4 linked regions of the Homo sapiens genome follow. The protein of the gene in region 1 interacts with the protein of each later gene in a pairwise test. Each region holds a gene or a part of one and is shown on either strand. Other genes may lie near its edges.

Region 1 (9,601 bases):
AGCAGGAGGTTAAGTGGTGGGCTCCGCCTCCTGTCAGTTCAGCAGTGGCATTAGATTCACATAGGAGTGTGAACCCTATTGTGAATTGCACATGCAAAGTGGAAGAGTTTCATCCCCAAACCTTCTCCTGCCCCCTTCCATAGAAGAACTGTCTTACACGAAACCAGTTTCCAGTGCAAAAAGGTTGGCGACTACTGGTTTCAAGTATCAGACTTACATGTTAAGCCCTGATAATAAGTAACAACATACTGTAATGTGAAGGAAGATAATTACAATTTAAAAATTCTAATACAGCTAAATTAAAACTATAATACTGCACCAGGGATACCTAAGTTATACCTGATTTCAAAAAAAACATACTTAACACTCTGTTCTTACTGAATTAAACTTCTATCATTTTCTTAAAAACATACACAGCCATAAGCTTCAAGTAATCTAAAACAACTACCTGAACACAAATAAATGTAATAATATTTGAATAAGTTATTGCTTACCTGAGTCTTTAAAAGGAAAAAAGCCAAACATCTTTAAAATACAATGAATAAAATAGTAAATTCATTAGAAAGTTTACTACTCACCAAATAATGTCAGTTTCAGTATCCTACTGCACTGAATTGCAAAGGAAAGGTCAGAACTATCAAAAATTGTTATAAGATCTCCATCTGGAATTTAAAAAAAAAAAAGGTTGTTTTTTAATTTTTTAAATTTTCAGATTTGTATAAGCAGTAAACTAGTAAAAATTAAAAATCCAAAATGTAGATTGTAGAACATAGTTGGACTCTCCCATAGAAACCTTAAACTTTAAAGGTCTAGCAAAAATGCATTTGTTCAAAAATATACTAAATCAATTTTGCTTATTACTCTTATGGCAAGGTATTTACACATATCCACATGAAAAAATACAGCTAAAGTGAATCCATTAAGTGCCTTAATATTTATTAGTCACTAGTAAGAGATTCATAGAGAGCAATATCATAAATTGTTGGTTTAGACTGAAATCTTTTCATTCCAAAAAATTTACATCTTTTACCAAGAAATAAAAAAGTTTCCCAAAGTTCAAATCTTAATCATAGGTAGAGTAAAACACTACTGTTGCAAAACTGCTTTAATGAATGGATAGACAGTAAATTCTTTCAGGTCACTGACCATTTTGATATTAAGATGAAAACAATCAACTCTCCCCAGAAAAATATTTATATATTCAAAACAGTGTGTATTTATGACCGTGAAATCCCCCAGATCTCAGGGATAAAGAATGCTATAATTGGCATACCAACTGTGTGTCTCAAAAGCTTTCAAAGGGCTAAGGGAAAAATACATTCTCTAAAGAAAGCAAGAACAGAAAAGCAGCCAGAGACAAGGAGTTCATCAGGGACCTCTGCAGGGTGTCTTCACAAACAGTTGGGTGGGGAGGAGTTCTGTCCTGGGGAGGCCACAAGACTACTTCTGGGATGCTCTGCTGCACCTACTTTAACACTAATTAGTTGGATTTATTTTGGGCAAAGATGACAAAACTGAGAATTTTATAACTGTTTTTAGCTCCTTATAGCCAGACCCACTTCCCATAACATACTTGTTTAATGTTCAATTTTCATAAACACATTTTTTAAAGAAAATAAAGTATGTATGTAAAAGAAGAAAACTTCCTGTTCTTTTTTTCTTTTCTGAATCCTACAACAGAAACAGAGTATCTCTGATGGCAGGAACTTTACCTAAGCCATCCCTCCACTCTACTAACAGAATCTAACGGACACAAATCAAAACAATCAAAAACTTTTTGGCCAAGTGCGGTGGCTCACACCTGTAATCCCAGCAGTTTGGGAGGCTGAGGTGGGCGGATCACCTGAGGTCAGGAGTTCGAGACCAGCCTGGCCAACATGGAGAAACTCCGTCTCTACTAAAAATACAAAAATCAGCCGAGTGTGGTGGTGTGTGCCTATAATTCCAGCTACTTGGGAGGCCGAGGCAGGAGAATCACTTGAACCTGGGATGTGGAGGCTGCAGTGAGCCAAGATCACCCCACTGTACTCCAGCCTAAACGACAAAGCAAGACTTTGTCTCAAAAAAAAAAAAAAAAAAAAAAAAAACCATGAAATACAAAGTTGTAACTAAATGTGGAAGACAAACTACAACGAGGACACCTCAAGCTAAGGGTCCATGAACTGTGACCAACGGACAAAATCCCTGTGTTGTTATAGGTCTGTGAATGAAAAATGGTTTTTACATTGTAAAAAAAAGATGAGACAGAGGCCTTATGTGACCCACAAAGCTACAATATTTATTCTCTCTGATCTATTAAAGAAAATGTTTGCTGACCTTTGCCCTAAACAGTAGTTAAGAGAAAGCCAGTCAATGAGGTCAGTTTGAGATAAAGGCAAAGCATCTTCAAGTGGGAAAAAAGGCAGTTAAAGGCCAGGCACACTGGCTCATGCCTGTAATCTCAGTACTTTGGCAGGCCAAGGCAGGAGGATCGCTTGAGCCCAGGAGTTCAGGACCAGCCTGGGCAACACAGTGAGACCCCCATTTTGATAAACATTAAGAATAAGAAGCTGAGTGCAGTGGCACATGCCTGCAGTCCCAGCTACACGGGAGGCTGAGTTGCAAGGACTGCTTGAGCCCAGGAGTTCAAGGCTTCAATGAGCCATGATCACACCACTGCGCTCCAGCTTGGGAGACAGAGCAAGACCCTGTCTCAAGACAAAAAAATAAAAAATAAAAAAAAGACAGTTAAGCAAGTACTAGCCAGAGCAATTATGCAAGAGAAAAAAATAAAAGGTATCCAAATTGGGAAGGAAGCAAACTGTCCCTGTTTGCAGATGACATAATCTTATATAAACAAAAACCTAAAAACTCTACCAAAACCCTTAGAACCAATAAATGAATTCAATAAAGCTGCCAGAAACAAAATAAGTACACAAAAATAAGTAGTGTTTCTATACACATACAATAAAAAATAAAAAATGCAATCCCATTAACCACAGCTACAAAAATTTTTTTAAATATCTAGGAAGCAGTTTAACCAAGAAGATGAAAAACCTCTACAAAAAAAAAAAAAAACACTGATGAAAGAAACCAAAGAGCATACATATGTAATGACATCCCATGCTTATATAAGAACAAATATTGTTAAAATGACAAAATTACTCAAAGCAATTTACAGATTCAATTCAATCCCTATCAAACTACCAATAAAATTATTCATAAAAATTTAAAAACAAACCATAAAATTTGTACAGAACTACATACAACCCCAGACAGTCAAAGCAATACTGAGCAAAGAACAAAGCTGAAGGTGTCACACTTACTGACCTCAAAATATACTACAAAGCTGTAATAAGCATGGACTGGCACAAAAACGGACCCACAGACCAACAGAACTGACATAAAAACAGACCCATTGACCAAGAGAACAAACACATAGATCAATAGAACACATAGAACAAAAGAACATAATCCATGTTATCTATAGCCAACTGACTTTTGACAAGACCACTCATTAGGAAAAGGATAACCTCTTTAATAGGTCGGGAAAAGATTTCATGAATAAGACCTCAAAAGTGCAGTCAATAAAAGCAAAAATAAATATGATTATCTCAAACTGGAAAACTTTTCTGCACAGCAAAGGAAACAATCAAGAGTGAAAAGAGAACTTACAGAATGGGAGGAAATACAACTACTCATCTGGCAGAGGATGAATATTCAGAATATAGAAGGAACTCAAACATCTCAACAGCTAAAAAACAATCAATCCGATTTTAAAATCGGCAAATGATCTGAACAGACATTTCTCAAAAAAAGACATAGAAATGGTCAATAAATATATGAAAAAATGCTCAAAATCACAAATCATCAGGGAAATGCACACATATCAGGAAAATGAAGACCACAACAAGGTTCACCCCAGTTAGGATGGTTATTATCAAAAAGATAAATAACAAATGCTGGCAAGAATGAAGAGAAAAGGGAACTCTTACACATTATTGGTAGGAATGTCAACAGTACAGCCACTAGGGAGAACAGTATGAAGGTTCCTCAAAAAACTATAAATCGAACTAACACACAATTCAGCGATGCCACTACTGAATATTTAACTAAAGGAAAGGAAACCAGTATATTGAAGAGAAATCTGCACTCACATTTTACTGCAGCACTATTCACAATAGTCAAGATATGGAATCAACCTAAGTGTCTAACAACAGATTAACTGATAAAGAAAATATGGTATATATACACAATGGAATACAATTCAGCCATAAAAAAGAATGAAGTCCTGTCATTCACAGCAACATGGATGGAACTGGAAGACATTAAGTTAAAAAGATACCACATGCTCTCTCTCATATGTGGAAGCTAAAAAAAGTTGATCTTATACAAGTAAAAAGCAGAACAGATGACAGTAGAGGCTGCAAAGGGTAGGGGAAAAGAGGGATAGGGAGAGATTTATTAAAAGACACAAAAGTACAACTAGATAGAAGTAGTTCCAGTGTTCTATAGCACTATAGGATGACTACAGTTAACAATAACATATTATATAATTTCAAATAGCTAGAAGGAGAATATTGAATGTTTCTAACCCAAAGAAATAAATATTTGAGGTGATGGATATGCGAATTACCCTGATCTAATCCCATTATATGTAATGAAACATTACTATGTACCCCATAAATATGTACAATTATTATTTGTCAATTAAAACAAAATTTAAAAAAAAAAGTACTCTTGGGACTTTGCTAAAAAAAAAAAAAAGTTAAAAATCTGAATTGTAGGCTGGGCATGGTGGCTTATGCCTTTGGGAGGCCGGGTTGGCAGTATTGCCTGGGGACAGGAGTTAAAGGTTATGATGAGCTATAATCATGCCACTGCACTGTAGCCTGGATGAGAGTGAGACCCTGTCTCAAAAAAAAAAAAAATTCACTGATCAAATTAAGACACACATTTCAAAGTCACAGAGGTGCAAATCAATGTATGATAAGCATAAGAAAACAGGAAAAAAGTACTATCCTTTATTGTTTCTTAACATGGGCAACTCTCAAAAATTTGTTTTGGGTATTCTTAGACTACACATCACAAAAACAAAGGAGAATTATACCTTTAGCTAGATGGTCAATTTAACTGATCACCAGTGATTTACACTTCTCCTCCACAGTATAAGTTGTGCTAAGTGGCTGCTCAGCCAGGGACTATACTTCCCAACCCATTTGCATCTTAGCAAAGCCATGTAACTGGGTACTGACCAATGTCATAAGGGCAGAAATGACATACAACACCATCAGGCCTAGTGAGTAAAATCTCCCATATGATTCTTCATACTCTGTCTTCACTCATCTGCTTGCCAATGTCAATGCCTATGGTGAGCTTATAAGCCATGTGTTGAAGGTAACAGCTTCTTTCAACCTGGATCCCTGAAAGATTTCTCAACTATTAAACCACTCAGATTTTAAGATTTCTATTATATCTGCTGGCATTACTTTAAGCCCAACCCTAACACAGACAGAGAAAAAACTGTTAGTGATAAGAAAACTAGGTTAAGCAGTGTCAGAGATGTTAAGAGGTAAAAGTATTTAAAAACAAGGATGGTGTGGGTAGCAGTGCTAAACAGTGAGGTCAAGATTAAATACACTGCAAGTAAGTTCCACAGTAAAAAACACTGGTAACCACCTAAAGAGAAAATTTCAGCAGAGATATTAACAAAGAAGGCAGGTTGAAGAATAGGAAATACAGTCTACTACTATAATTCTACTCAGTGTGTTTGCCGAAACATTTTTCATTCAAAACCTATTTCCATAAAGATAATTTTGTCAACAAATGAGTCTGGGAACACTGCATACTACTAACTTCTGAAAATGTATATAAGCATATTACATAATCTGAAAACTCCTACAATAAAGAAACACTTTTGTCTTTGTTTAAACCAGCTTTCCCTTACTTAGTTGACCATAAAATCCTTTTTCATTCAATACATACTAAAACCTTTCATTTCGGGAAATAAGAATAGAAAAAAAATTTTTTTAAGCTAAAAGAAACCAGAATTATATGGACAAAAGGAGAAAATAATGCTTGTAAAAAAAATGTATGTGAAAATGTTCTAACACTTAAAATTCCCTTCTAATAAACCAATTAGCTATTTTTTTTTTTTTGAGACGGAGTCTTGCTGTGTCACCCAGGCTGGAGTGCAGTGGCACGATCTTGGCTCAATGTAAGCTCCACCTCCCGGGTTCAAGTAATTCTCTGCCTCATCCTCCCGAGTAGTTGGGATTACAGGCGCACACCACCACGCCCAGCTAATTTTTGGTATTTTTAGTAGAGACAGGGTTTCGCCATGTTGGCCAGGCTGATCTTGAACTCCTGACCTCAAATGATCCGCCTACCTCGGTCTCCCAAAGTGCTGGGATTACAGGCATGAGCTGCTGCGCCCGGCCCCACTTAGCTAATTTTAACTGATGAGAGAATTATAGTAACTATAGGAACATCACATTCAATACAAGAAAGTGAGGTCTCAACTACCGTGAAGAGAGGATGGGAAAGAGTCCAATAAAAATGGGCAAAATAACACATACAATACTTAAGACTTTAAGGTCAGGCATGGCAGTTCATGCCTGTAATCCCAGCACTTTGGGAGGCCGAGGCAGGATTGCTTGAGCCCAGGAGTTTGAGGTGACACTGAGCTATGATCACACCACTGTACTCCAGCCTGGGCAACAGAGGCTCTGTCTTTTTTTTTTTTTTTTTAAAAAGACTTTAAAAAATAGCTTTAAAAACACTCTTACCTTCATCTTTATACTTTATTGTTACTTCATCATTACTCAGAAGTTTTCCTCTGAAAACTCGTTGCATCATTAGCACTAATTCATCATAAGTAATATCTTCATTATGAATAGGAATTCGCCGAATATCCTCCCCAAGTTGAGCTTTGATGATTAGCTTCCCACTTAGATCCAACTGTCCGTTCATGGTGGACTCCAGGATGTTCTATATATACAACTCTAGAGAAAGACTGATAAAAGTGGTTTTGATAATTAAACAACAAAACATACCGTAAAAGTTGAGAGCAAAGCTACTATTAGATGCTAAGAAACTCTAGCCTCCAAAAGATTCATTATCCCCATGTTACCATATTTATGTTAAAATGGTCTGGAGGCAACATTATTTTACTGTAGGGATAATAAAATAAGCTTTTATTTTACGTCTACTATTATTTTTTCTCATATTTAACTGTTCATCTGACATGACCATTTAGATTTTTCTTAATATATCTAAAAATAAATTCCTGATCTTCCACCTAAAACCTGCCTCTCCTAGAGGCTTCTTTATCTTCCTTCGAGTTGTATAAGACAAAAAAATCTTGGTTGATCTCTCTCTCTCAAACCTTACATCCAAACTGCCAAGAAAATATGGTTGCCACTGCCTTTAAAATAACTCTGGGGTCCAACCACTTCAGCACCTTCACTGCTATCAACTTGATTCAAGCCACCATCATCACTTGCCTAAATGACTGGAAAAGACTCCTAACCAGTCTGCCTGCTTTTTACCTTTGCCCACTTTTAATCTAGTCTCAGAACACCAGAGTTAACACTGTTAAGTAAAACCTAGTATCATTCTGTTCAAAACCTTCCAATGCATTCTCATCCCAAAAAGCAAGACCTATAAAATCATCTGGCCTCCAGTCCCTGGCCAAGTATTTAACTTCATTTCCTACCTCTCTTCTTCACTCACCCCTGCTATTCCCATACTTCAAGTTTTCCCTTTGTCTTGACCCTTTCTGATACCCCTCATATGATTCAGATTCCTTATCAAGTGTTAACTGAGAGAGATCTTTCCTAACCATCTAATTTAAAATGGCTCCCCTGGCATTATCTTCTTATCCTGCTTTATTTTTCTTCAAAGCACTTAACACTACCAGACATTAAAAATTTATAACATTTTATTGTCTTTTCCACTTGATGGTAGGAAGTAAACGATTATGTTTTCCATATTCCCAGAGTCTACAACAGTGCCTAGCAGACAACAGTCATTCAACAGCTATTAAATAAAGGGAAAAATAATGGATTAATATCTCTTCTTCTCAAGGCCAAGATGTTCCTGAATGTTATCTATAATCGCTGAACATTTTCCAAGCATAACTCCTTCCTCCTCCTGCCCCAAGAAAATGATCTCTTGAGACTTTTCAAGGTATCCTACAAACTACTACTGGCCACATTCTAGTTTCAACTTCCCGCCTTACTACTAGCAGCTTTCTGCTTCCTCCTCTTAAATCTGTTATTTCATTAACACCACACTTCTCTGCAATTATTCTTTATTCTTTCGGGGTATGTGAAAGCACTCACCTACTCCCCCAACATATCAACCCTTCAAGTACTTCAAAAAAGTTTTCATGAATCCTATTATATGAATATTATATATTAATGCCCTACTATTCTTCATATAAATACGCTAGGTCCTTCCATCTAACTAGTCCTTAAATTAATATCTCTAGACCCCTCACCATGCTCTCAACAGATATTTTATTAATAAATCTTCAATGAAATGGGTCATTAAAACTAAATATAACACTCTAAGGTCAATGCAGAACAGAGTGAACTGCATTCCACTCTAGGGATGCCATGCTTATCTTAATGCAAAATAAGAATACAGTTAGCTTTTTATCTGCCAGTTCTCACAATGGACTTCTCGTGAAGACAGTGATTAACAGAAATCTCCACACAACCAACTCTTCGCCTTCTGCAATGCCTTCTGCAATGCTTTCGGTATTCAGGAACTACTTATTAAATACCTACTATGTGCCAACTCTAAAGTATAATTACTTCACCAAGATGGTAAATATTCCATCTTGCTTGCTCTGGCAGCCTAAGAGTAATAAAGACCTTTCAATAAATCAATGTATTTGTTACCTTCTCCTTCCTACAAGAAGTGTAAACCAGCAATAATGTAAAAGGAACCAGTGCTTAGCTTCAGTGAGCTGGTACTATCTATTCCCAGCAGCACCTAGAAAAGTGCCTGACATATAGAATTTAAAGACTTTGTTTAAATTTTTTAATTATGGGAGAAGAAAGCTGTAATATAGATCAGTTTTTACATCCGACCCCTCACACTGTACCTTCTTTATGTAGCTAGAAGTGACTTCCATCAGACACACTCCTAATTAAGAAAAAAATTCCAGCTTTGAAGATAATTGATGGTATGTCCTTCTGACTGGGGTACGGGTTTGTTGCCCAATTTCAATGGATTTAAAATTTGAGGGCCGGGCACGGTGGCTCACACCTGTAATCCCAGCACTTTGGGAGGCCGAGGCGGGCAGATCACGAGGTCAGGAGTCCAAGACCAGACCGATCAACAGGGTGAAACCCTGTCTCTACTAAAAATACAAAAATGAGCCAGTTGTCGTGGCGCACGCCTGTAATCCCAGATACTCAGGAGACTGAGGCAGGAGAATCGCTTGAACCCGGGAGGCGGAGGTTGCAGTGAGCTGGGGGATCACGCCACTGCACTACAGCCTGGGCGACAGAGCCAGACTCCGTCTCAAAAAAAAAAAAAAATTGAGTCACGTATACTTTCTATCTGCCGTGTTTACCTGCAAATTCACTTTTTGTGTTTCCTATTGACT
Region 2 (9,654 bases), on another chromosome or scaffold:
GTTGACATAAGGAAGGCCAGGCATGGTGGCTCATGCCTGTAATCCCAGCACTTTGGGAGGCCAAGGCGGCTGAATCACCTTAGGTCAGGCGTTCAAAACTGGCCTGGCCAACATGGCGAAACCCCGTCTCTACTAAAAATTACAAAAATTAGCTGGGCATGCTGGGCGTGGTGGCTCAAGCCTGTAATCCCAGCACTTTAGGAGGCTGAGGTGGGCAGATCACCTGAGGTCGGGAGTTCGAGACCAGCCTGACCAAAATGGAGAAACTCCCACCTCTACTAAAAATACAAATTAGTCAGGCATGGTGGTACGTGCCTGTAATCCCGGCTACTCTGGAGGCTGAGGCAGAATCATTTGAACCTGAAAGGTGGAGGTTGCGGTGAGCCAAGATCGTGCCATTGCACTCCAGCACGGGCAACAACAGTGAAACTCTCTCTCAAAAAAAAAAAATTAGCTGGGCGTTGTGGTGGGCACCTGTAATCCCAGCTACTCGGGAGGCTGAGGCAGGGAGAACTGCCTGAACCCGGGAGGCTGAGGTTGCAGTGAGCCAAGATCGTGCCACTGCACTCAAGCCTGGGCAAAAGAGCAAGACTCCATCTCAAAAAAAAATAAAATAAAAAATAAATAAATAAATAAATAAATAAATAAATAAATAAATAAATTTGCCGGGCGCAACAGCTCATGCCTGTAATCCCAGTACTTTGGGAGGCTGAGGCAGGTGGATCACGAGGTCAGGAGTTCAAGATCAACCTGGCCAACATGGTGAAACCCCGTCTCAACTAAAAATACAAAAATTAGCTGGGCATGGTGGCACGTGCCTGTAATTCCAGCTACATGGGAGGCTGAGGCAGGAGAATTGCTTGAACCAGGACCTGGGAGGCAGAGGTTGCAGTGAGCCGAGATTGTGCCACTGCACTCCAGCCTGGGCTACAGAGGGAGACTGTCTCAAAACAAACAAACAGACGTAAGGATGGAATGAGATGTTATGTTTAGGTGAAGGGAGAAAAGAAATGGGAGAGGAAGAAGAAAGGGAAGAGAGAAGGGAGGTGGGAGGAAGGAGAAGGGAGGGGGCAGGAACATGACAGCAAGCTTTGTAAACTGCAAAGGCCATTGCTTCACTCCACTCCCATTCAAACCCAGTGTTCCAACCTGACCATTCTACTCACATTTTCAAAATGCCTTTCCTGCCTCAACTCCCAAAACCTTGCACATACCATTTCTACAGTCCAACCAAATACACTCCTGAAGTCAACCAGGACATCATCCAGCAGTCATCCAGTCAACTAGGACTGTTGATTCCCCAACCTGTCCACATATCCAAATCACTCCCATCCTTCAAAATGCAGCTCAAACCATCCCTTTGATAAAGTCTTCCCTCCTCAGAACACTGCAGTATTTGCCATAGTGTCCCAACCCCACCCCCAACACAAGTAGGTCCCGTGTGAGGCCTGGGAATCTGTGTTTTTTGTTTTGTTTTGTTTTGTTTTTTTTTTGAGACAGAATCTTGCTCTGTCGCCCAGACTGGAGTGCAGTGGCGCGATCTCAGCTCACTGCAACCTCTGCCTCCCGGGTTCAAGTGATTCTCCCACCTTAGCCTCCTGGGTACTGGGATTACAGGTGCGCAGCACCACACCCGGCTAATTTTCGTATTTTCAGTAGAGACAGGGTTTCACCATGTTGGTCAGGCTGGTCTCGAACTCCTGACCTCATGATCTGCCTGCCTCAGCCTCCCAAAGTGCTGGGATTACAAACGTGAGCTACCGTGCCCAGCCTGGGAATCTGTATTTTAAACAAGCTTCCCAGGGTGATTCTGATGGTTGGTGAAGGCTGAGAACCACTGTGTGTCACCATGGTTACCGTCGTCTTAATGAATTCCTTTTGCCTCCCCAGCTAAACTTGGGCAGATCAAGAGCCAGGCCTTGTTCAATCTCCCTCCATAAGCCCAAGGTCCTGGCCCTTATTAGGTACTCAACAAACACCTGCTCAGCAATGTCCATCTTCTTTTTCACTTTTGTTTAAAACTACCTTCTGTGCTGGGCACAGTGGCTCATGCCTGTAATCCCAGCACTTTGAGAGGCCAAGGCAGAAGAATTGCTTGAGGCCAGGAGTTCAAGACCAGCCTGGCTGACATAATGAGACCCCATCTGTAAATATAAAAATAAAATAAACAGCTTTTACCAAGGAGGCACTCCTGATGGATCCTTCTCCACTTCTATATCCTGAGTTCACTCAAGGCTTAGCTGCCCACTTTGCACTCTGCTTGTTTTCCAGACTCTGGGTCTGTGCCCATCATATGTGTGCCTCCCATGCGACAAGGACCATTGTCATTCCTTCCTCTCAACTTTCTGCCTGGGTCAGGAGTGACTTCTCCAAGATAAGAACTCAAGGTTGACACAACAGCTCGATAAACCTATTTTCTCACCCTAGCCTAGGGGAAGTGGGAGAGAAAAGAAATCAGAGGCCCAACTTAGGAAGTCCTTCCCTGACTGTCTCAGTAGTCTTTAACTGATCTGTTGTCCAGGTGGCTACCCAGGACAAACTGGGCTCATACAAAAGCTGAGAAGGGTGCTGTGGAGAACGCCAGTGTTTCAGGGGACCTTGCTTTGCATCTCCCCATGCAACACCAACATTAGCAGATTGGCTGCTCCAGCTCTAGAATCTCGAGAAGTCTTGAGCCCACCTTTGACATTTAGACACCTGTGTTGGAAACAGCAAGGCTGGGGAAAAGAGTGGCAAGATACTACTTTCATTGTTCCATAACTTCAAAGCCTGATCTCATAGCAAGAGCCACAGGCTGGAAGTCAATTGATTTGAATTCTACTCCTGTTTCATCTCTAAGAAGGTTCTCTTGAGCAACTCATTTAACTCTCTTCTCTATGGAAAATCACATACTCCATCCAACCTACCACCTGTTAACTCATTTTTTTTTTCAATACTTATGAGTCTCTTACATGACAGGCACTGCAGCAGTCTCTTGATGAGGAAGAAATCCAAAAAGAGTAAAATGTAGGCCAGGCTTTCTGTAAGCTCATAATCTGCTGTGAGGGCAAATAAACAACTAACTGTAATACAGTGTGATGTGAGCTTTAATACCCGGAACAAAACACTAAGAGAACCCAAAGGAGGAACTTGTAAGTTCTACCCAAAGTCGCCCCAAGAGCCAGAGGCTTAAGAAATGTAGATATTTTATAAAATACGGTGTCATACTACATTAAGCACAAAGACAGCGGAGTTGGACCAAGCGATAAGGCTGACCACCAAGGGCCGACTTCAGACTGATGTCAGACTTCTCTGACATCAAATCCGGGAAGTGAGGAAGGAATCGAAATCACATATGCACTCCCCTGTCCTTTGGAGGCACTCCGGGAGTCCAGGGACAATAATAAATATCCTTAAACGAAATAATAATAATAATAATAATAATAATAAATAATAATAATAATAATAATAATAATAATAATAATAATAATAATGCATAGGCCGGGCGCGGTGGCTCACACCCGTAATCCGAGCACTTTGGGAGGCCGAGGCGGGCGGATCACGAGGTCAGGACTTCGAGACCAGCCTGACCAACATGGTGAAACCCAGTCTCTACTAAATACAAAAATTAGCTGGGCATGGTGGCGCGCGCCTGTAATCCCACCTACTCGGGAGGCTGAGGCAGAAGAATCGCTTGAACCCGGGAGGCGGAGGCTGCAGTGAGCTGAGATCGCGCCATTGCACTCCAGCCTGGAATTCAGAGCAAAATTCCGTCTCAGAAAAATAAATAAATAAACAATAATAATAATAAAGCATAAACTCAAAAAGACCATTTCATCTGGTTCCAAAGGGGCCGACTACTAAGGCACCATACAAAACCTCCGGGGGCGCCCGCTGGCTCCGGCCGACTGGAAAGCCTTGATCCTGCAGACCTCCCAGGCGGTTTCATAGGCTGGGCTCTCCCTGCACTGAGTCTTACCCCATACGGAGGGAGGGACCCCAAAATATAGAAATTCTAACCACCCTCTCGGCTCAGCCCCGACGACCCTGGGAGCCGTCAACTTGCCCCCACAGTCCCGGATTCCCAGCCCCCTACTTCCTCACCTGGTCCAGCTCCCCATCCCGTTTCCGGTTCCTTTCCCCCACCCCAAACCCAACCCCCGGCGCTAAGGACAGTGGGAGTCGTAGTCTACATTGTTTAGGGAAGGAGATTGGCGTACCCGCAGCCACTTCCGCCGGAAATGCTCCAATCCCGGAAGGCGCACTAAATTAGCCCTAAAGATCGCTGGGAATTGTAGTTTAATCTTTCCATCAGCGTTAAATCAGGAAGTCTTGAGAAGTGAAAAGCCACAGCCTGTAAGTACCTAGGAAATCCTGGGTTCTATCCCTAAAGGGCATCGCCCTTCCAAAAGTTCATTCACTATTTTCCCAAAGGGATTGCAAATCAGGAAGCTTCAACCATCCCCAATCCCTCACCCACCTGAAGGTATTAACAATAGCTAAAGACCATTGCTAGGCCCCCTGCCACCGTGGGTATAAGAGACTTCTCCTTTGCAGCCTGCCATTACTTATACAGAACATCCACGAAGACATTTCTGGTAGCTCCTAACAACTTTTTAGCAAGGGGCATCCCCCATTACTGTCCAAGCCCATCTCCAGAGTGTCACCATTTTGACTTCTTTCTCTGCCTTGCTATCTGCCCAACCCTATAACCTCAGTATTAGTCAAGAGTTTTCCAGAGAACAGAACTAACAGGATATCTATCTATATGACGAGATTTATTCCAAGAATTGGCTCACAGGATTGTGGAGGCCAAGAAGTCCCACAGTCTCCCGCTCTGCTGTCTATACACTGGAGAACCAGGAAAACAGGTGGTATAATTCAGGAAAGTCCAAAGCAGGGGAGGAGGCTCACTGCTAAGTCCCAGAGCCTGAAGGACGAAGAACCAGGAACTCCAATGATGTCCAAAGGCAGGTAAAATAGATGTCCCAGCTCATGAAGAAAGAGAATTTGCCTTCCTCCACTCTTTTGTTCTACTGGCCCCCAAGGGATTGGATGGTTCCCACCCATATTAATGAGGGTGATCTTCTTAGTCTACCAATTCAAATGCAAATCTCTTCCAGAAACACTCCACAGACATATCCAGAAATAATGTTTTACCAGCTATCTGGGTGTCCCTTAGACCACTCAAGTAGACACATAAAGTTAGCTATCACTCTTCCATCCAAATCTTCTCCCTCAAATACTTTGTCCAGGAAGGCTTCCCTGATCAATCCTCATCCCATGGCTGCACCTAACAGTCCATTCCCCCACCATTCCCCCATCCCAATATCTATGTCCAAATCTGTCCTATTCCTAGTTTTGTTCTTGTGCTCTATCTGGGTCTGGTTCTGTGTCGTGACTCTAAAACTTTCATTAGACTGGGAACCCCCTAAGGTTAGTTATCTTCTATATTCCTCCCACCCCACAATCTCCACACACCTTAGCACAGCCAAGGCTCTAATCACAGAAGCAAGGTCTCCCTGTGAGTGGTAGAAAAGGAGACCTATAAACCCCAGAACAGGAAGAAGTGAGAGAAAAAGGATGCTATTCCCTTCCCAGGACTTGTCTGATCTCCTATCAACAAAAACTTAATGGGTGCAGTAGGAGCTTCAGGGAGCTGTGAGCAGTGACCTGCTGACATCAAGGGTGAGAAACTACCCTGACCCTTGCAAGACTTTGGAAATGGAATTAATCATCCACCTCATGAAGCCCATAATTTCCTGAGCTTTAATTTTTACCAGATCCTCTCCCTCTCTGTGTCTCTCTCTGCCTATGTTATTTGCCCCTCTCTACTTATGTAAATTTATCTCTATTTCTAGTCTCTTGTGTAGCTTTCTCTCTGTATCTGCAGGTCTCTGTCTCCCTCTGTGAACATCTCCCTGTTTCTGCTTCTTACCCTAGAATGACTGGAATAAGAGAATCTGAGCTTCTAGAACAAGTTCCCCCATCTCTGTGTGTCTATGTATTTCTGTGTTTCTGACCAAAAATAAGGTGAAGGGACCTCATTGTGGTGTCATCTCATTGCTTAAAAATTCCAGGATTTCCACCATCCCTTGGACAACCCTCCTGTCCACCCCGACCCCTCTGTCACTTGCTTGCCCAGCACTTCTGTTCTAGTTTGTCATCTTGGCAGCCCCTCCACATTCAAAGTCTGCTTCTGGCAGAACAATAATGAGTGAAATGAGTAACAGGCAAGCAGAGATCCCCCAGGACCTCCACCTCCCCACCCCTGATTTCAATTTCCTAGAAGACTTGAATAACTGTTTCTGTCCCTATAAGCCCATCCACCCCAGGGAACCCAGAGATAGGAAGTCCAGATATAAGGAGAAACTGAGGCTTAGGCAGCCCACAGTGAGTCCCTACAGCCAATGTCAGAGGGGCCTGGGGCCTTCTCTCTCTCTAGTCCATGCTATTCCTCCCCGCCCAGTGAGTCACTCCCAGGAAAGATGGAGGTGAGGCGCTCTCCTGAAGTAGGCGTGCTTAGAAACAGGGACCCTGAGGCTTTCAAGAGATAGAGCCCAAGAGATGAAACATGGGCTTGGGTGCAGCCCTTCCAACCAGTCTCTTCCATTTATTAGTCTTCATGTCTTCTGGGAAGTCTTCAGGAGGCTGCTGACTGTGATTTACGGGTAGAGCCTTGTGGGGCAGGAACAGAAGATGACCCAGGTTATCGCCTGGGTAAGAGCCTAGAGAGTTGAGTCACCGGTCCTGGGGCAGGGCTCCAGGCATACCCACCAGCCAGCCCCTCTGTCCTGAGCCCGGGAGGGAAGGGGTTAACCGGCTCACTTGTTTTTTTTTTTTTTTTTTTGTTTCCTCGGGCTGCTGGAGCTGTGTTGGGCCATGAGCGCCATCTATCGGCCTCTTTGGGTCCTAGCTCCGACTCTGCTCACTTGGGCTGCTAGGCGGATCTTTCAGCCTTTCCCTTGCCTCGCCGCTTCTCACGGGGAAGGGCTGTCTAGCTGCGGGGCCTCCCACTGCACAAAACAAAGGTCGGGAATTGGAGAAGGTGAAGGCCATGTTTCCCCCTTCATAGATACTAAGTTTCACCCTGTTCAGCTCCCACTCACTGTTTCTGACATGGGGAGCCCCAAAGGGGGTTCTGGTGTTTAACTTTCAGTGTAGCCACCTTCCCCACTTCCACTACACTGGGTCCTGTCCCGATTAGCCCAACAAACATCAAAAGAGCATAGGACAGTGAAGACAGCATAGCAGAGGCCTCAGGACTTTGGGCTCTGGAATCAGACTGCTGCGTTTGAATCCAAGCTCTGCCACTTACTCATGGTGACCTTGGGCATGCTACTTAATTTCTCTGTGCCTCAGTTATCTCAGTTGTAAAATGGGATAATCATTGTAATCTCTATCTTCTTTTGTGATGTTTAAATGACTTAATTACATTAAGTGCTTATTACAGAATTTGGGCTCCACAAAGGGTAGTTATTGCTGTTGCTCTGCCAGGGTCTCAGGCAGATGATAGTCTGAGTACCCAAGACCCAGTCCATGAAGCCCTATCAGACACACAAGCACGGAGGACAAGACTGGGGAGCTCATCCTGTAGATTTCCCAAAGACAGTGACCTGCATGCAGGGTTAGGTTTGGAGTTGGAAGTTCAGGATTGCAAGGAAAGTAACTCTTCAGGTCTCCAAGGTCAGCAGAAGTTGGGATAAGGAGGTCACAGCAAGAAAGAACCTGAAGTAAAGATGTAGGAAGGAAATGCATTAAGGAAGAAGCATTAACAGGCCCTTTAAAGGGCCCTGATTTGGGGAAGGGAAAAGGGCTCCTTGATGTGTGAGTTAAGCAAGGGCCACTGCATCCCAAGGACATGTCCTTGGCACAGATGCAAAAGTCTCCAGACTTGATCAGATTCCCCATGCCTCCCCATTCCATCTGTGGGGACTTAACACTCCATGTCTTTTCCTCAGCCTAGTGAGGAGGGGCACTTACAAAGAGAGAAAGCTATCTGCAGGGCCCACAACCAGAGGAGCTAGGCTGTGAGTTCATCCATTTGTGTCCTTTTTTTTTTTTTTTTTTTTTTTTTGAGACAGGGTCTCACTCTGGAATGCAGTGGCATGATCATGACTCACTGCACTCTCGACCTCCTAGGCTCAAGCAGTCCTCCCGCCTCAGCCTCTCCAGTAGCTGGGACTACAGGTGCGCACCACCACACCCAGCTAATTTAAAAATTTTTTTTGTAGAGACAGGGTCTTGCTATGTTGCTCAAGCTGGTCTTGAACTGCTGGGCTCAAGTGATCTTCCCACCTCGGCCTCCCAAAATGTTGGGATTATGGGTGTAAGCCACCGCACCTGCCTGATTTGTTTCTCAACAGGTTCAGCCATCTCGCTGTCTCTGTATCTTCTATATCTCTGCCTTCATCTACCTTACAAGAAATGGGATTATTCTCCAAGGGGTGAGAATAAGGTGACAAAGTGACACCCTCTCAGTTAAGACAGAAATGCAGAGCCAGTGGGGTCCCTGGCTCAGCCTCGCTACCCTGCTACGCACACCTCAGCCCCAAGGCAGCACAACCTAGCTTTATGGATTATGCCTACTTAACTGGAGGAAGATGACAGCGTCTAGGTCTCCTCAACTCTGGTGTCCTCCATCTCCTGGGGCCTGGACGCCTGGGTCCCCAAGAGAGGAGCAGGAATAGGCTGGATGGGCTGATTTGCATCACTTACTTGGGAAGCAATTATCGGAGGAGCTGTCAGCTCAGTGCAGCTCTCTCCTCACTAATCGGATTTCACCAGAGCCCGGGGCTTGGGGGGGCCGAGTAATTTGGCTTGATGCAGTGGTGGGAGATGTCAGGGCCAGGAGGCCGGACAATCTGTCTGAGTGGTGTTAGAGTTGTCCAGAGCAATTATCCTGAGGGACCACACAGACATCAGATAGACAGACAGACAAGGGAATGGGACTGATCCCCAAGTCCTTTAGCAGGAAGGATGGAAGTGAGACTTGGAGAATGGGAGGAGCATCTCCCACAGGTTGAACCAAATTGAGCAACTAGAAGAGGATCAAGATGAGTCTGAGAGAGTGGCCATGGGACCAAGTGGGAGGACGACCCAAGAATCCTAGCTTCCAGCCTACTCAACACCGAGGCCCAGCCCTGCCTTGCCCTGCACTCCCAGGGAACCAGTCACAGAGCAGGAACTTGAACCTAGGGTGATTCTTCTGAGCTCTGCTCCTTCCCCTGCAATGTTCCCAAAAGACAATTTCCTTGCCTCTGGCCCTGGCTCTGTCATTTGCCTTCTCTTGCTCCTGCAGCCCTCTTGAACCTGTCCTTTCCTTCCCACCCATACTGCCCCTCTCATCTCTCTGGTGATCCCTCTCTCTGTCTCTGTCCTCCATTCCACATCTTTCAGAATAGTGGTAAGGGTGATAGTGACAATAACTAACCGTTAGTGAGTGCTTTGTCCACACCAGACACCACCCTGAGTGCTTTATGTGGATTGTTTCCTTTACTCCTCTCAGCAACACTTTGAGGGACATACTTTTTTTTTTCTTTTTTGAGACAGAGTTTTGCTCTGTCACCCAGGCTGGAGTGCAGTGGCACAATGTCGGCTCACTGCAACCTCCGCCTCCCAGGTTCAAGGGATTCTCCTGCCTCAGCCTCCTGAGTAGCTGGGATTACAGGCACC
Region 3 (8,682 bases), on another chromosome or scaffold:
AGTTAAGCTAAATATGTATACTCAACAAAGAGTTAATATCTAGACCATGTGAAGAACTATCCAATCCTGAAGACAGACAAACCTACTAAAAATAGGGACAAATGACATGGATGTTACTTCAAGCAAAAAATTTAAATGGCCAAGAAACAAGAAACATTTTATTTAAAAAGTGCTCAATTCAATGGACCATCAAGAAAATTAAAAACAAAACAAACATTTTTTAGAATTACATTCTCACTAGAAGTGCTAAATGTAAATAGGCTGACAACTTCAAGTGTTGGTGAGGGTGTAGAACAACTGGAATTCTCATACTCTGATAGTAGAAGTCAATATTAGCATAACTGCAAGGATAACTTTGTAATGGTGTAAAATAGAGCTGAACAAGCACATCCTACATAACTTAATTCCACCCTTACACATATTGCAGAATAGAAATAGATACAGATGTGTATTAAAATATAGCCGAAGAATACAAGAATATTCTGTACACTAATTCTAATAGATCCAAACTAGAAACAACCCAAAGGCTCATCAACAAAAGAATGTATAAATATATTTTGGTGTTTTAACCTTGAATATTATGTACACAAAAAATTAAAAGACTACTGGTACATATAACAATATGGAAAAATCACACATAATATTTAGTACAAGAAGACAGACACCAATGGGTAAATACTTTATAATTTCATTTTACAGTTCAAGAACATGCAAAAATTAGTTATGTATGTTATATGTTAACTAAAATCTCATTTAAAATGATGTTAAAAATAACAGTTCAACAAGATTAACAGTAGACATATGGCTGAGATAAAATTCAGGCTGAGCCAATGTGTGATTAGGGTAAGAGGCACAGAGAGGGCCGGGGAAAGGCTTCAAAAAATAGGGGATACAGATGTCACAAAATCAAAATATCCAGGAGAGCAAGCAAATAAGGCAAATAATGAACCAGAATGAAATTAACAACAGTGGCATGATCATGATAGTAAGTGGAACTGGCATTCTGCTTCATTGTCAGGAAGTCTCTAGGGCAAGATTGAACTGAGAACCAGAAGTGTGTGCCCTGTCTAAAGGGAACAGCTGGGAGTTACTGCGAGCTGCCTGCCAATCACTTTCTTGCACAGTGATACAGTTTCTAGCTTTTCTAGCTATTCCAGTTCCTCAAAAAGGTAAATATTCAGGCTTTTAAAACTTTATTTCCTTTTAATTAATGAAATATATGCCCCCACACATTTTAGGTTGAGTGAGAGAAAAAATGTATCTTTAATTGTTACATGTCCCATAGCTTATAACTTCTGGCAAATTCTGTGATAGTTCAGGACTGTTTTGTTCACCTCAGTATCTTTTGTGCCTGGCATATAGTATGCAAGCAGTACCTTTGTTTCTGAATAAATCAAAAGATTAATTAATGAACTCAAGACTGTGTTTTTGTAAAAGCAAGTATGAGTTTTCAAAACAGAGCTGAAGAACATACCGCTCTCGATGATGACCTATGCAAAAGGATGGATGACTGTAAAAAGCATATGTTTGGGGACCCATGTGTAAGTCAGGATCGCAGGAGCTTAGTTTTATTATTTGCAATATTGAGCAAAAGAGCATGAAGCCAGAGAGGTATGGGGGAGAAAGACAGTGAGGGAACTAGGTGTCATGCTAAGAGGTTTGAATATTTATCTTATGGGAATAGATTATAGGAAGCCATCAAAGGCGTAAGCAGAAACTTGGTTAGGTTTGCAATTAGAAAGAACATTCTGGTGGAAGTGTGTTCATGGGGTAGAGAGATAAGAGACATCACTCCTAATTTTTCCTTTTCAAAACAGCTTTCCCAAGGACTTTTTGGGTCTCTCAAGTACATAGGGTCAGAAGTCTAAAAAGCAGCTTAAGGAATAAACCATCAAACAATCCCTCTACTGTCAGGTAAGAATATATGGTTGAGTATCACTTGTCCAGCTCAGTCATCTTGCAAGCAATTGACGTTGGTTATTTCTGTGTTGAAATTAAGTCATGAAACACAAAGCGCTGAACCAGATTCTTAATTTGGACTTAATCGCATTTATTATAGTGCAAAACAAATACATTCTTCCCAGACCAGAGCAACATTGAATAGCATTGTAAACTAATTTTTTTGATGTCAAGGAAAGATGAAAACAAGATAAAACATGCGAGAGAAGCAGCTTGCATTAGATCAGGCACAGTAAAACTAAGAAACATCAGTTGCTACTAGCAAAGAAGCAAAAGTCCATGGAGTTTGAATTTTTGTTGTGGATGCTCAGAGTGATTATTCACTGGAACAAAGAAGCTGCTGGTTTCACAGTCCAGAGCAAGATGGACGACACGTGCTGAACACATGGGTCAGAGGTTGGCAACCACTGAACAGAGGCCCCAGAGGTCTGAGGCTGCTGGACACAACGTGAAGACTTTGAGGACGATAGGCCAAGCAACTCGAGGGTTGGCATCCAGAAGTGAGGAGGTTTTGGGGCTGGCAACTCTTGGACAAGCAGAATTGGGGGCGATAGGCATTGGGCACACAGTCTCCTATGGGCTGGTAACTATTGAGCAGCGGCCTCAGTGGACGACAGCCGCTGGACACATACCTCTGTGGTCTACAGGATACTGGAAGGCAGGAACTGGAGAAGAAAGAAGCAGGAAGAAAACTGCTTCCTTGGCAAGGCCTGGGCACGTAGTAAGCAGTGGAAGAACCGCAAGAGGTTTCAAGATTGCCGGTCTCACAGTGGACCGGCTGGCAGCTGGTTGGTTCACCGCAGGTCTCTTGGCAGTTGTCTGTGACCCAGGTATGGTCTTGAGAGCTAGTGGGTAAGTAGAGGACATCTCCACAGCTCACGCTGGTAGGGCAGAGGTCGATGGAGGTGAGAGGAATATGGCGGGAGGTTCTGAGAGATCCTGAGTTGGAGTTTCCCGAGCAGTAGTTGGGGCAAGACATAGTGAGGTTGTGAGAGCAGGCTGAAGTTGAGGCAAAGAAGTGAGTGTCTGAAGTTTGTTCTGCCCTTCCTTAGCTTGACCCTTTATTTATCCCTAGAAGGTGGTGCTTCTGCGTGCAGACTCTTCCTCTTGTTGTATGAAGATGCATCAGAACTCTTTATTATAGCCAAGGAAGTGAGGCTTCCACCCTCCATAAAACTGGATGCTCCTTGCAATGCCATCCATTGATTACGTCTATCTATAAACCAATGCGACTGAGTTTTAATAGGATCTATCCTTCTTAAATTATCCAAACAAAACAGACACATTTTAAAGCCTATGTGCTTATTCCAATTATAACCACCATTGCACAAACATTCTTAAGATTCCTCTCTTAGAATTGTCTTTGAAAGTTGTAGCAACTTCTTTGAAACAGTGAGAACTTACATCTTTTTGAAGAAAAATTCTATTCTTCTTGGAAATTGCCAGAAGTGAGTAACTTGGAACAAGTATAAGAGAAAATGAAAATCCTTGCAAACTATATGACAGAAATATGGACAATTTCAATATGTTTTGCTTGGTTAGAATTTATTTTTCTAAGTTGTGATTTGCTTTATTTCAGAATTCTATTCAGACTTGACTTTCTACCAAAATATCTTTATTCAAAAATATGTGCTCATTTTAGTCATTTCAATAAATAAATAAGCTGAGTGAAGCTGAAACCTTGGCTTATGTTTAAGATATTCTTGAATATAGATAATGAAGTTGGGCCAAGTTAAAATTATGTATCCTACTGTGAACAAAAGCAGAGAAGTAGACCTCTTAAAGAAAGTCAGGCATCTTGACATTTTTCATGATTATTTCAAGGTTATGTATTGCATGGTTTCTCATATTCCAACTGAAAAAATATTGTTCTTGGTTAAAAAATACACTGATTATGACATGAATTTATTTTGCTTTCTACATTGGCCTTGATGTCAATTTCCAAAAAGGAGCTTCTAAACTGCTTTACATAGGGAAAAGCATCAGGATAAATTATTGTTTTCCTAAGTTTTAGTACTTTAAAGGTCATTTGAGAATATGTATTTCTGGTAAAATTGTTTTAAAAAATGTATGATTTTAGTTAGTTTCAACTATCCCTCTATATTTTTCTCATACTGACATACCCAGTGGCTCCAGTAGCTATTTTAATGGGATTTTAAATTATCTGCTGGCTCTAAGTTCCAATTCCTTTTGGCTAGTCAATTTAAATCATAACACTTTCTTCTATTTTGGTGTTTGAGGGACATACTTGTGCTTATCCAGTCTCCCTCTGTCCTGGAGGAGTGAAATCTCTGAAACAGAAAGTTGGTTTCTCAATGAGACAACACTAGACTATTTTACTACTGGGGGAGAAATATAAAAATAAAATGGTATAATCCCGGAGGTCCTGTACTAACATGTTGAATTTATCTCAGTATTTTAGGTCAGACGATTTGTACCTGATGTATTTGAGAAAGCCCCACTCACTCCAACCCCCAACCCCAGGCCCTCATCACCTAATACTGTTTGTATAACCGGATACTTTGTATACTTCGGACATCACCTAATACTCTGTGTATACAGCTGCTAGAGTCTTCTTGTAAAATCCTGGTTGCATCAGCTGAATGGCGTTAGTAATAGGTACAGTCATATTTAGCTGAATGCTTATGAAATTGTATGTTGATCCTTTTTATGTCTGCTCTTCTCTAATATAAACAAGAGCCCAACATCTGTATCATTAGTACATCAATACGCTTGTGTGTATGTGTGGATAGATGTATATACTACATGTTCTATGTATACATGGATGGTTTTCCATGAAGAGAAGGGGTGTGGAATAAGAGGAAACTGGCATTCATGGAATGCCTACTCTGAAGAACCTTGTGCTGTGGGTGCCCACATGTGCCATTCACTTTGTCCTCACAATTCTATACAGTAGATCTTACTATTTCAAGTACTCATACGAGAAAACTTGAGCTTTAGAAAGTTGCAGTAATAGGTATTACGAAAAACATCTGAAAAAAGGCTCCTTGACTCCCCAAACAGTTTTTCTCTATCCAATATGGCATTACATAGAGATGCATTGATACTATCATTTAATAACCAATAACCGTGTGAATTGGGTAATTTGCATAATTGCTCTGCTCCCCAGTCACTATCAGTATAATTTTATGGAAATATTAATAGTATCTACTTTTCAGTGACATTTCAGGAATATATTGAGATGTCATTAAAAGTTAAAATAAACTGTAAAACGTTATACAAGAGTAATCTATTTTCTTGCTTTGGCGTTCTTAACCCATTCTGGAGAGTACGACCTTGGGTTTAATTTCTTTAGAGCACCACCATGAGTTTCTCGTGTGTGTGTGGGGGGGGGGGGGCGGTGGGGGGGTAAAATTGCAAAAATATCAACAGATCTTCAGAAAGTGAAGTACCCTGAATATAAGTTGTCCTTCATGTAATATAGGTTGAACTAAAATTATTTCATAGTGGCTGTGTCACTAATAGAGAATTGCTTATTTGGGCATAATACCAGGTACCTCATTAGCAGGATCCTATAAACTACATGTTTCAGACTTCTCTTCTGAGTTAAGAGCCCAGGGATAATCGGAGGAACTGGGCATCCTGTGTGATTTCCCAGATTTACCCATGGCGTTGCTTTTTTTTTTTTTTTTTTTTTTTTTTTAATAAACCATGGATCTTTGTCTCTCCTACTGTAGAAGGAGAATTCTGAGTTTCTCTGTCTTGGAGACAAAAAATCCCCAGAACATTTCAACAATAAAGTTGTGCCAATAAACAAGGTACTTTTAACTCATCCATTCAGCAAATATTATTGAGCATGTAGTATGTGCAAAACATTATGATAGATGCTGGCAATGGAACCAACATAAAATTGGTTTCTGCTCTCAGATGTACACTATCTGGTAAGCGTGATAAGACAGGTACATAACCCATGTCAGTGTTTACTAAGTTCCGTAAGTAATGTACAGAGAAGAGCAAACATAGTTCATTCACCTTACCAAAAATTTAACATTTGATATTAATTTTGAAAGATGGAAGGGGCTTTGGAGAAGAGGAAAACACTTTAGGCTATGGAAGAAGATGTCAAGGTAGAGAAAATGACAACATAGAGCTTCCCAGTGAAGGATTCTAAGAAGCAAACTCATATTCACATGTTGAAATTACTGGGGGAAGTAGTTAAGATATTGTTCTAAAGGTGTGGTGATCCAGTAATGTGTTTCAAGAAGAGAGTGCTGAGGTTAATTTGCAGCATAGATTGGAAAGTGGGAAAACCTGTTATGCTTTTCTCCCTTTATCTTCTAAAATTATATATTTCTTTCCATTTTTTTCTTTCTGTTATCATGGCAATGATTTAAGTTGGGCTTTTTTGTTCTCCTTCAGTGAATTTCCTACTGCCACCTTTGACTTCTGTCCCTATGGTCTTCTATTTTGCCTAAATAATGCATTTGAAATAATACTCATGAAATTAATTTCATCATATGATTCTCTTTCTCAAAAAAGTGGATGATTTCTCTTTGTCAACAGAGAATTGTTCTGACACTTGTCTGGCCCTTCTCTACTTCCCAGTAAAGATTCTCTCCTACTTTTTTGGGTTGCCTGTTAATATTTACTAGTTCTAATAGTTTTTTGGTGGAGTCTTTAGGGTTTCTAATGTATAGAATCGTGTCACATGCAAACAGAGACAATTTTACTTCGTTATGATTTGGGTGATTTTCTTTTTTTTTTTTTTTCTGACTAATTGCTCTGGCTAGGACTTCTAGTACTATATTGAATAGAAGTAGAAAGAGTGGGCATCCTTGTCTTGTTCCTGATCTAGGGAGAAAAGCTTTTAGGTTTTCACCATTGTGTGTTTCACCTGTGAGTCTGTCATATATGGACTTTGTTATGTTGAAGTATATTCCTTCTGTGCCTAATTTGTTAAAGTCTTTATCGTGAAAGTTTGTTGAATTCTGTCAAATGCTTTTTCTACATCCATAGGGATGATAACTTTTATCCTTCTTTCTGCTAATTTGGTGTATCACATTCATTGATATGCATGTGTTGAATCATCCTAGCCTCCCAGGAATAAAATTCACTTAATCATGTTGTATCATCCTTTGAATGTGCCATTGAATCCTGCTTACTAGTATTTTGTTGAGGACTTTTGCATCTATCTTAATCAGGCATATTGGCTTCCAGTTTATGTTTTCATTTCTGTTTTATCTTTTATTATCCTTGACCAACACTAGTATCAGGGTAATGCTGGTTTTGTAAAATAAATTTGGAAATGTTTAAAAAACAACAAGCCTTACTTCTACAAATCTTCCTAATTTTATAAAAAATTTTCTATTTGACTTTTTTCTGCTCTATTTTTTTTTCTTCTGCTGACTTTGGGCTTAGTTTGTTATTCTTTCTCTAACTTCTTGAGAAGTTAAGTTGTTTGAAATCTTTCTTTTTTCAGGTAGGTATTTTTTGCTGTAAACATCTTAAAATGGTTTTCGATGCATTCCAAAGTTTTGGAATGTTGTGCTTCCATTTTCATTGTCTCAATATTTTTTAATTTCTCTTTTGATTTTTTCTTTGATTTATTGGTTGTTCAGTAGTGTGTTGTTTAATTTTCACATATTTGTGAATTTTTCAATTTTCCTCTTGTTACTGATTTCTAGTTTGGTGGTTTAATATCATTATGGTTGGATGTTTAATATGATTTTAATTTCCCTAAGACTTTTTTGGGGGCTAACCCATAATCTATCCTGGATAATATTTAGTGTGTGCTAGAAAAGAATGTGTATTCTTCTCCTGTTGGATGAAATGTTTTGTATAAATCTGTTAGGTAAGTCTGCTGTTTCCTTTTTGATCTTCTGTCTGGGTGATGTATCCACTGTTGAAACCGGGGTATCAAAGTCTCCTGTGATTATCATACTACTGTCAATTTCTCCCCTCAGTTCTGTTAATATTTGTTTTTATATTTAGGTATTCCAATGTTGGGTGCATATGTATTTGTGATTGTTATATCCTCTTTATGAATGGACTCCTTTTTCATGATATAATGACCTTCTTTGTCCTTATGATAGTTTTTGGTGTAAAGACTATTTTGCACAGTAGAAGATCTAGCCACCACTGCTCTCATTTGGTTACCATTTTCATGGAATAACTTTCACTTTCAGCCTATGTGAGTTCTAAACTCTCAATTGAGTCTCTTGTAGACAGCATTTTAGTTGGATCTTTTAAAAAAATATATTCAGCCACCCTGTATTTTTTAAGTGGATATTTAAATCCATTTACATTTAAAGTAATTCTTGATTACTTTACTGCTGCCAAGAACTTACTACTGCCATTTTAATTGTTTTCTGTCTGTTTTGTGATTCCTTGTTCTTTTTGATTTGACGATTTTTTCTTAGTGGTATGCTTTGATTCTTTTAATTTTAATGTGTTTACAACAGCTTATTCTTGGTGATCACCATAAGGCTTACATAAAACATCTTCTAACTGTTTATTTTAAGCTGACAATAATTTCACTTTGATCACATACAGAAGTTCTACACTTCTTCCCCACACACACATATTTTGTTATTGATGTCATAATTACATCTTTTTATATTATGTATCTATTAACAAATTATTTTAGCTGTATTAGGGTTCTTCAGAGGATCAAAACTAATAGAATATATATAAATATATGAGGATATTTATTATGAAAATTGACTCACATGATTATGAAAGCCGAAAAGCTCCATCCATGCC
Region 4 (2,668 bases), on another chromosome or scaffold:
AATGGTGGCTGGGCATAGTAGCTCAAGTCTGTAATTCCAGCACTTTGAGAGGCTGAGGTGGGAGAATCGCTTGAGACCAGGAGTTGAAGATCAGCTTGGACAACATAGTAGACCCCATCTTTATTTAAAACAAACAAACAAACAAACACTCAAAATGGTTAGAAGTTAATGAGGATTACTTTCACGGGTATTCCAAAAATATATACACTGGTATCATTGAGAGTCTGCAAGTATTCCTAGTGTCATCCCACAAGAACGCACCTTCTGTCCTAGTCACTGCTCATATGCCATTTTGTTTCACAGGAATAGTATATAAAAATTTAATATATTACAAAATTGACATCAGAAATCAGAAACAGAAGGGAGATTTACTAAATACACAGTGATGGGGCTGCTGACCATCTAAAATAACTTAAATCCTTAATTTTCATTGGTGTATCTCAAATTTCAAGCATGCCATCTCTTTTCACAGGGAGAAAAAAGCCCATAACACTTGAAGGTTAACTTAATATATACTTATTTTAATATTTTTTATATTTTTATCAACATAAAATAGGTAAATATAGTTCACATACAATAATAAATGCTAAAACATTTACAAATTAAAATAAACATAAAACCAATAAAATGGAAATTAACCATCATTAACATAACAAATAATGCTGTTTTGCTCAAACAAAGTAGATCACAAGTATTTGGTTTAATAGCAAAAAGCTGTAGTTTCAGATCCCATTCTGTAAACTGAGTAGTTTTACTTTAATAATAATGTTGAGAATGCTTGTTCACATAAGTATCTTATTCAAACTGGTATTGATCAATTCAAGCCTTTCTTTCCTCTTTCAAGGTAATTAGAACATAATATTTTTCTTTCTTTTGAGACTGACTCTCGCTCTGTTGCTCAGGCTGGACTGCAGTGGTGCAATCTCAGCTCACTGCAACCTCTGCCTCCTGGGTTCAAGCGATTCTCCTGCCTCAGCCTCCTGAGTAGCTGGGACTACAGGTGTGTGCCACCACACCTGGCTAATTTTTGTATTTTTAGTAAAGACGAGGTTTTGCCACGTTGGCCAGGCTGGTCTTGAACTTCTGACCTCAATTGATCTACCCGCCTGAGCCTCCCAAAGTTCTTGGATTACAGGCGTGAGCCATTGCGCCCGGCCAAGAACAGAATATTAACCAAACCCATCAAATGGCAGTCATTAAATGCCAATTTTTAAATAGGTGTAAATTGATAGATTTTGAAGATTAACAATTACCTATTGTTAATCTTCATTGCCTAATGAAGTCATTGCCTAATGATGATTGAATCTAATTAGTTTTAGATTTAGAATGGAAACATTCTTTGCTATTTATTTGCTATCATACTTATTGCTAAGGAACTGCTGCAAGTTACTCTGTAGAGGAGACTTACAACACAATAGTACTGACTATTGCAGGACAGATGTTTTCTGAGTAATGTAAGATTCTGATCATCATGCCAAAAAACAACTCAGGTATATTACGTGTACAACAACAGCACACCATCATTTTTCTCATTTTCATATAATCTGTGTTCTGCAGCATCAATAGCTTTATTTTTTTTCAGATCAGATTTTAATTTTGAGTACTTAACACTATTGTTGACGTGCATTTCACTTTCTTCATGTTTACTAAGAATATGTGATAAATGTTGCCAATCTTTGCACCCATTTTCATTTTTCAGTTGATTTTTTCCTTCCCCAAAGAGTTTGCAATATAGACAAAACACAGAATCTTTTGAGGTTGAATAAAGTAACCAGGATCTAGTGGTTTTTTCACCATTTGGAAGAATCCGTGTATAATAAGTTTCTGAAAACTTCCTCCCTGTATTATCTTTTGGAAAGTTAAAATTTCTTACTTGAGGCGGAACATTTTCAACAAGAGTGTCCCGTTGTTTAATATTCAAAATTCGGGGCCACGTACCTGGATCTGCGGAAAGCACAACTGGTACAATGGAGTCTTCAAAATTTTTCTCTTCCAGTTGCTCTTGAAATGTATCAGCTATGGTTGACGTGGAAGAAGGAGGTAAATTCACATTCTCTTGGATCAGTAATGTATCCGTGCCACATTCTACTGAAAGCTGTAGCTGTGAAGTCTTTTCCTTTTTTTCTGGGATTCCCTCTATTTTTTTCAAAAGTGTATTTGACGATCCATATAATTGTTTCTCATTTTCTTCTCTAAAAGCATTCCTTTTTCTATTTTCTGATGCTGTTAATTTTTTTGATTTTGTTTCCATCATCTGAGGACAAAGAGGATTATAATTTTATTTTAGGTTAAACTTTTAAAAATTAATGTATATTCAAATGCTCAATAAGCACATGCTCATCATTAGGCATCAAAGAAATGCCAATCAAAAAGACGACGACGGTCGGGTGCGGTGGTTCATGCCTGTAATCCCAGCACTTTGGGAGGCCAAGGTGGATGGATCATTTGAGGTCAGGAGTTCGAGAACAAGTCTGGCCAATATGGTGAAACCCTGTCTCTACTAAAAATACAAAAATTAGCCGGGCCACAGTGGCATGCGCCTGTAATCCCAGCTCCTCTGGAGGCTGAGGCAGGAGAATCGCCTGAACCCAGGAGGCAGAGGTTGAGCTGAGCTGAGATCGCGCCACTGCACTCCAGTCTGGGCGAAAGAGTGAGACCCTGTCCCAAA

What was found.
Region 2: the proteins of TFG (region 1) and SMUG1 interact in binary tests that used the Homo sapiens proteins (3 or more experiments, as listed by UniProt).
Region 3: the proteins of TFG (region 1) and KRTAP26-1 interact in binary tests that used the Homo sapiens proteins (3 or more experiments, as listed by UniProt).
Region 4: the proteins of TFG (region 1) and ZMYM5 interact in binary tests that used the Homo sapiens proteins (3 or more experiments, as listed by UniProt).

The regions. Positions count from the first base shown.
Region 1 is NC_000003.12:100,711,036-100,720,636, reverse strand, and holds part of TFG (protein TFG), read right to left. Parts: exon of another isoform or gene 9,569-9,601; intron 6,995-9,568; 5' UTR 6,952-6,994; coding exon 6,768-6,951; intron 663-6,767; coding exon 579-662; intron 1-578. UniProt on the Homo sapiens protein: Plays a role in the normal dynamic function of the endoplasmic reticulum (ER) and its associated microtubules. Required for secretory cargo traffic from the endoplasmic reticulum to the Golgi apparatus.
Region 2 is NC_000012.12:54,184,868-54,194,521, forward strand, and holds the start of SMUG1 (single-strand selective monofunctional uracil DNA glycosylase), read right to left. Parts: upstream 4,119-9,654; 5' UTR 4,084-4,118; exon of another isoform or gene 3,036-4,083; 5' UTR 2,952-3,035; intron 2,429-2,951; exon of another isoform or gene 2,179-2,428; intron 2,145-2,178; exon of another isoform or gene 2,026-2,144; intron 1-2,025.
Region 3 is NC_000021.9:30,317,098-30,325,779, forward strand, and holds KRTAP26-1 (keratin-associated protein 26-1), read right to left. Parts: upstream 3,219-8,682; 5' UTR 2,939-3,218; coding exon 2,306-2,938; 3' UTR 2,027-2,305; downstream 1-2,026. UniProt on the Homo sapiens protein: In the hair cortex, hair keratin intermediate filaments are embedded in an interfilamentous matrix, consisting of hair keratin-associated proteins (KRTAP), which are essential for the formation of a rigid and resistant hair shaft through their extensive disulfide bond cross-linking with abundant cysteine residues of hair keratins.
Region 4 is NC_000013.11:19,822,982-19,825,649, forward strand, and holds the end of ZMYM5 (zinc finger MYM-type protein 5), read right to left. Parts: intron 2,255-2,668; coding exon 1,496-2,254; 3' UTR 501-1,495; downstream 1-500. UniProt on the Homo sapiens protein: Functions as a transcriptional regulator.